2 linked regions of the Homo sapiens genome follow. The protein of the gene in region 2 purifies or fractionates together with the protein of the main gene of each other region. This does not show direct contact. Each region holds a gene or a part of one and is shown on either strand. Other genes may lie near its edges. The genes, in order: EGLN1 and FAM98B.

Region 1 (3,828 bases), on a different chromosome or scaffold from region 2:
TCTACACAGAGATAATGATTTTGTCTTTTTATTTTAAAAGCCATTTGAGTTTCTTCAACAGAGTGTTCAGTGTCTCTGAAAGCACACTGAGCTTGTGCCACAAATAATGGCTTTAAAAATACATAGAAAATGCATGAATATTCCATTTTTATGTAAGGTCGACGTGCGATTAGCAATGGCTCTGGAAAACACAGCTAATCAGTAATGTGAATACTCAGTGGATTTTTGGAGATAGAAAGTAGAGTTAAAGAAAAGAAGGTAAGTGGTCCATCAGATGGGAAACAGACCCCCTGCTCTTGGAGAGGCAGTCCATAAGTGGAAGAGAAGGGGAACTGGCATAATTAAAGGATCTTCAGGTTCAGTACAAGAGTGCTGACCTATGTACACCATTAGCAGATATGGAATCTACATGTCTGTGTCATTTACTGATTTTGGCATTTGAATTCATAATTCTTTGTATTAATTTTCTTCATGTCTACATTTAACATGGAAGACCTAGAGTACTGTTTAGAGCACATCCATTTGAAAAGGAAAGGGTATTAATTTAAGGAGTGAATGAGAGGAAACCATATGGCCGTTACCTAGAGTTAAGTGGCCTTTGACTGAAAAGGATAATCACAGAAAACTCAGTTTGTATGTGAATAATTTACTCAGACTTCTTTGCCTCAAATTTTCCACATCCTTTGACAATTTTTTTGGTTAAAGATAACAGTGAAGATGACTTATGTCTTCTTAAAAAATGAGGCAAATAAGAAATCTGATAAAAAACAAAAAGTAAGTATTCATGGTGTTAACAAAGACTATGCTTGAGTTTCCTGAAAGCATCACCTGATTGCAGGGTATTTCTGTACCAATATATCCTGGCCCCAAATGACGTTTACCTGTTAGATATTTTACTTTAGCTCGTGCTCTCTCATCTGCATCAAAATACCAAACAGTTATTGCGTACCTAAAAGAAAATTTAGAATAGGATAAGAATGATCACACTGCGGGGAAAAAGTGGTATTTTGCTGCAATGGTATATTAAAACTTGTAATGCCAAAATTATGCCTAAACTGGAATGATATCAAAGGATAAATTTAACAGCTTATTTATACAGTAACCAGGGGAGACTAAAATTGATGTCTGAAGTTGATGAGTTTTTGTGACTTTCTTAATACTTATTTCAACTACTTATTTTTTGCAAGGGAACTGCAGATCAGAAAGAGACAATAGGCCGGGCACAGTGGCTCACGCCTGTAATCCCAGCACTTCGGGAGGCCGAAGTGGGTGGATCATGAAGTCAGGACTTCGAGACCAACCTGGCCAATAGGGTGAAACCCCATCTCTACTAAAAAAAAGAAAAAAAAAATTAGCCGTGCATGGTGGCACATGCCTGTAGCCCTAGCTACTCAGGAGGCTGAGAGGCAGGAGAATCGCTTGAACCCGGGGAGGCGGAGGTTGCAGTGAGCCGAGATCATGCCACTGCACTCCAGCCTAGGTGACAGAGTGAGCCTCCCTCTAAAAAAAAAGAGAGACAATAAAAGGGTAAAAGAATGGCTGTTACAGAAAAAGCACATTATCAATAGCACAAGTACTAAAAGAACAGAAAAGAAACAGATAAAAGGACTCAGGGCATTGCAGGCTAACAGTTTCAACAGTCTCTGGGGACATCACTACATTATAGCAAAGAGTAATGATGGATGTTTACAATTATAACCTTGACAGTTAAATTATGCTAAGAATTTTTAAGGATTTTAATCAAAGCAATTATACTGTGTTTTGTGTTTAAACTTTGTCTAAACTTCATTTTTCTGAAAATCTGACTTAGAATATTTCATTCCACCAATAAGTGAGGCATCTCTAGTTTATTAAATACTACAAAAGACATACTTTCTGATACAAATAATGGGGAAAATGTATAAACGCTATAGGAAGTGAAAGTACGCTACAAATCACCAGTTCCTGGGCAGAATATAGCAATTAGTTCAAATATATTGTGGATTGTGGCCAGTGGACACAGGGGAAAAGGCAACATTTATCAGACATACAGCCAGTAATATGACAGAATGAAAAATCACATAATGTATTTTGAAGTAAAGAGTCTGGGAGTTTGGACAACTGGGAGCCTGACGTTTACAGACCCCACCACTGGTGAATCACAGAGCTGAGGTCTAAGGAGGTCTCCTGACTTCCAGACCAGACTCTGCTCTTTCCAGAGTTCCACTACCTTTCTTACCATGTGGCTTCTTCTACTTTTGGGTGGCCTTGGAAATAGGAAAGGGCTCAGATACATAATTTTATGTATCTTTTGCCCATGCCCTAAACTTTTAGTCACTTAGCAATCAGAATTCTAATATCTGGATCAACAACTTACCTTATGTCATTCTAACTTTCCAGCCTTATCACCCATTCTAGATAAGATCAGAATAGGATTCTACTTCAAGAATCCTTTTCGTCGCATGATTTTCCATGCCTTAACTTGAACAACTACGCCTTTTCCCCCAGAACTTTACTAACACGACTGCACCCCTTGCCTCTCCTCACCTAGGCCAGCTGAGCCTCTCCCTTCAAAGCGCACTTGCCCGTCTCTCCAATGTAGCACCACCTTCGTTCCTCAACTCCTGTAGCACTTAGCCTCCATGCCATCTGGCATTTATTTACTATAAACTCCCAAGTATCTGTTATTTATTCATCTAAAAAGGACGTAACCAAACCAAACTCAGGATTTCATAAAAAGGAAGGTCTATGAGGCAGTTACTGTGTCAGAAAATCTTTACAGAAGCAGCAGGGGGCAGAGACAGCACTGGGATGCCACTGGGAAGAGACATGGGATTGAAAAGGGCACATCATGTGATGTGACAGTCTTTCTTTGGTTTCCATTCAGGATTTCTTACAATCTCCAGCTACAACCTGCTTAGCTTGCTACTCAGTACGTGAATTAGGATGCAGGCAACACACCTCAGAAGGCAGGAAGAAAAAAGGCACAGCTGATAATCAAGTCGTTAGAGTCAACCATCATTACTAAAGCCAACTCTCCACCCAGCGCATCTAAGCCTGTGCCTCTTCTTGCCACCCTAGCATCTCCTAAGCCAGATACAGCAAATGAATGCCGGAAGCTCACTATCAGAATGTTCCAAGACCTTTCCATAATAAAAAATAAGTATTTTTTTTTAATGTGCTATTTTTCTACAAATATTTACTTTCATGATAATGTCTACAATATCTTGTTTTCACAGCCAGAGCATTTTAATTGAGTCAGGATAAATGGTTTTTAAAAAAGCATTTGAAATAAAGCACTAAATATAATAGGTTGCAAATACCTTGTAGAAAAAGTATAATGAAACAGATGCTCATTATTTGTAAAGCTAATAGGATCATTTTTCTAACATTAACTCCCACACATGGTAACCTGTTCTCTACTTTTCTTTCTTCTGTTTTTCTCTTCACTTCTACTCTCTGGTTACCTCTGATTTTTCTACTCTGTATCCATTTTCCTATGTTGTCCCTCACCACCTTTTAAAAAACCCTTTTCCTTCTTGATCTTTCTCTCTCCCAAGTAAAATACTCTTACAAAAATCAAAGCATGGATAGTAGTTAAGAGATGCACAAAGCACGGAGAGAGTGCTAGAAAGATGGGAAGGCCTGTGCTTCCCTTTCTTCAGAGTGGCTGTGCAAAGAAAGACACATTTAGTACTAACTGTTAATGAGTCTTATATAATTATTTGAATTCAGATGACTGTGCAACATAAATCTTATACAATTATTCAAATTAAAATGACTGTGAAAAGTACCTGGCAGGAAAATACTCATTAGAAAGCTTTCACGTTTACTCTACAGATTCCCTCC
Region 2 (3,828 bases):
TAATGATTTTATTTGAGAGCCTAACCAAATACAGAGCTCTGAAAATTCAGGTGAAGATAATCCACCCTCTGCCGCCTTTGTAAGGGCTTGCTCTTCTAACAATGGTCCTTTATACCTAGAAAGGAAGAAATACAAGTTAAAAACTAAATAAGCCAATCAAACAAAAAAACCTCCAACACTCTGTGTCAAGGTCTGCTGCTTGTTTTTGTAAATAAAATGTTATTGGAACACAGCCATTAAATGTATTAATCTACAAATTGGCTACGGCTGTTTCCACACTACAATGGAAGAGCTAAGTATTTGTAACCGAAAATGATGACTACATGGCCTTCTAAAGAAATGGTTTGCTGATTCCTGCTCTATATAATTAACATTTGGCTTTTTTCCTATGTTTTAACATTTTACAGTAAAATTATCTACCAATTTTCAGATAAATACCACAGGTATCACAAAGTCAAATACAGCATAAAGTCTAATAGCCTTATATTAATTACAATAAAAATATGGTGAAAAAAGCACAGACACAAATTACAAATTTAAAAAAGCTAAAGTTGAAAAGAATCTATTAGATCATTTTAATCTAAACCTATTTTATTTATTTTACTTTACTATTTTATTTTATTTTATTTTATTTTATTTTATTTTATTTTATTTTTGAGGCAGGGTCTCACTCTGTCACCCTGGCAGGAGTATAGTGACACAATCTTGGCTCACTGCAACCTCCACCTCCTGGGTTCAAGGGATTCTCATGCCTCAGCCACCAGAGTAGCTAGGATTACAGGTGCCTGCCACCACACCCAGCTAATGTTTGTATTTTTAGTAGAAAGGGGGTTTAGCCATGTTGGCCAGGCTGGTCTCCTGAGCTCAAGCAATCCACCCACCTCGGCCTCCCAAAGTACTGGGATTACAGGTGTGAGCCACCGTGCCTGGCCTCATTTATTTATAATTTTACACTTCTAAACATTTCTGCAAATTGTATTTCACAAGAATCTTAAATTTTCAAAACACTTTATATACTATCTTAACTGAATTAGATGATCAGTTTTCTACTTTTATGGTTCTTTTTGCAACTGAACTTTTGTTAACATTATAAAGTCACAGATAATATACTTGATGTGTTTTAATCCATCACAGTTATTCTTTTGATACTCAAATTCTTCTGTCTCTGGTTTATAGTAGCCCATTCAGGTAGGCCAGTCGAGCCCTTTGTCTTGTCCTCCGTACTCTCTGAATACTTTCCTTGCTTTCTACAACAACATCTTCCTGCCTTAGACTTGGAATCAGGCATTTCTCCAAGGAGCCCCGATTCTTTTAATGGTATTTAGAGTACATAATCTGCTACCAAAGGTTGGTCACTGTTTCTATGCCTTTTTCAGAGAAACTATATCAGTTTCATATTGCTATTTCCAACTGGAATTTAGAATTGTAGGGGTTTTACTTATTTTGTTTTACATTTTTATTTATCTTCTCTTACAATGACAATTCTTGTTTTAATAACATTTACAAATTCCTAATATATATTAAAATAGGTATAAATTACTTATGGCTTCAGAATAGGAAATCCAGCATTACTACTAACAATAAAATTACAGTTTAATTTTTTTATATTTACGACGTATTCCTGTAAGGATATACAGAAAAACAATTCCCATGTGATTAAACCACCTACTCAATATATCAATAGACATTTGTTTTGTTCAGCTTTAATTTGTAGGGATTTGTTTCTTTTTATTTCATTTTTGTCTTATAATTATGTAAAACATTAATGCAGTTTCAAAGTCTAACTTAAAAAACAAAATGCATCAGAAAAATCTAGTTTGCAATTTTAATCTTGTATCCTCTACTCTGTTCTCTCCCTCCCCTACAGGTGACCATATTTATTAGTTTGGGGTTGTCCTTCCATCATGTTTTTCAGTATAAATATATGCATTTTTGTCTCCTTTTCCAGATAAAAGGTAGCCTACTATGTACTGTTCTAGTCCTTGCTTTAAACACATACATGCTCACACACACATACATTTACATAGAGTAGAGATCAATATTTAGACATAGTATTCAACCATTTTTACAGTTATATACTACCTCACTGTCTGGATGCACCATATTTTATTTAATCGGCATCTACTAAAGGACACTTGGATTGTTTCCAGTGTTTTGTTAATATAGTTTGGCAAATTTTTGTCAGTTTTTATCTAGGATAGATTCCTAGAGGTGAGACTGTTGGGTCAAAGGGTAAATAGATACATAACTTTGCCAGATACTATTAAATTCTCCTGTAGAGGGGTTGTACCATCAAGGTATCCGAGTACCCATTCCCTCATAATTCATCAAAGTTGTCAAACTTTTGGATTTTTGACCATCTGGTAACTCAGTATAGTTTTATCTACATTTCTCTTACAAGCAAGACGTAGGGTATCTTTGCATATGTTTAAAGGCCACTTGCATTTCTTTTTCTTTGAATTCTCTGGTTATATCAGATGAAGGGTAAGTACAAGTATTTTCAAATCCTCATTTTGTAGGTAAAGAAACTAAGACTTCATGACATTAGGAAACCTGCCTTTATGTAGCAGGCCAGGCACAGTGCTAGGCATATATATATATATATATTTCATTTAATCTTTACAGCAATGCTTTAAGTTAGCATTATCCTAATTCTGTAGAATCAGAAAATGGCACTAGGATTTAAATCCACGTTTAACCCAAATGCTCCATCATTAACATAGGTCTTGTTAGACCTCTGTCTACAACTATAAGGAAACTAAGGAAATAATCTGGTCCAGTTGATACAGCCAAGTAAAGGCAGAGCTGAGACTAGAATATTATTTCTGCACCCCCCAGCTCAAGGCTGGTTCTTCTATGACTCAGCCTTCCTCTATGTCTTACAATGCCTCTCAATGAGATTTCATAGTAAACATCTTATATCCTCTTATTTGCTTTCATTTCTGCAATAAAGCAATACTCATAAACTCTTGAAGAAATTTAATTCATATTGATGTAAGTTTTTTTAACTGAAATGTCAATAATAAAAACCAACAAGAACTGATCAAATCACAAAAAATTCTGAATTTGGAAAAAAAAATCCAATCTTTAATGCCTTAGCTCATCAGATGAAGTAAAAATAAAAAGAGGAACAAATAAATGCATTTAACATACCTGACCATCTAGTAACAATCAAAATCGCAATAGTGGCTAACATTTAGAAAGTGCTAACTGTATGTTGGGTCAGTGCTAAACAATTTATATAAATTGTCTCATTTAGTTGCCACAATACCCTATAAGGTAGATACTATTATTAGCTTCATTTTACAGATGAGGAAGCTCAGGATGATAAAGGTAAATAATTCATCCGGGATGGCCATAATCATAGCTAACAACTGTCCCGGAACTGAGCCACACAACCTACCTCCATAGCCCCACACTCTTAGCCTGTATTGTTCTGTCACCATCCAGAAATGTATCTAATTGTCTTAGGCAATAGAAGTGTCTAAGTATATTCTGCTAGATAACCGAATAAGAATATGAAAGCACTTTTCTGGCTAGAACAGTACTTCTTAAACTTTTATGTGCATATGAATCTCCTGAGGGTCTTGTTAAAATAAAGATTCTAATTCAGTAGAGCTGGAATGATGTCTGGGATTCTGCATTTCTACTCCCCAGGTGATGATGACGCTGCTAGTCCACAGACCTCTCTTAAGCAGCATAGTACTTATTTTTTTACTTTCATTTAAAAAAAAAAACTCTCAATATTTATCATCACTCCTTCTCCTCTTGCAGTACATGAGAAATTACAGCAGGCATTTAAGAGTCTATTTATGCTACATTTAGCAA

Evidence for each region.
Region 1: the proteins of FAM98B (region 2) and EGLN1 fractionate together in Homo sapiens (co-fractionation; one large-scale study listed by BioGRID). This does not show direct contact.

Annotation. Positions count from the first base shown.
Region 1 is NC_000001.11:231,366,688-231,370,515, forward strand, and holds part of EGLN1 (egl nine homolog 1), read right to left. Parts: intron 3,157-3,828; exon of another isoform or gene 2,867-3,156; intron 950-2,866; coding exon 882-949; exon of another isoform or gene 880-881; intron 1-879. UniProt on the Homo sapiens protein: Cellular oxygen sensor that catalyzes, under normoxic conditions, the post-translational formation of 4-hydroxyproline in hypoxia-inducible factor (HIF) alpha proteins.
Region 2 is NC_000015.10:38,460,319-38,464,146, reverse strand, and holds part of FAM98B (protein FAM98B), read right to left. Parts: intron 116-3,828; coding exon 1-115. UniProt on the Homo sapiens protein: Positively stimulates PRMT1-induced protein arginine dimethylated arginine methylation.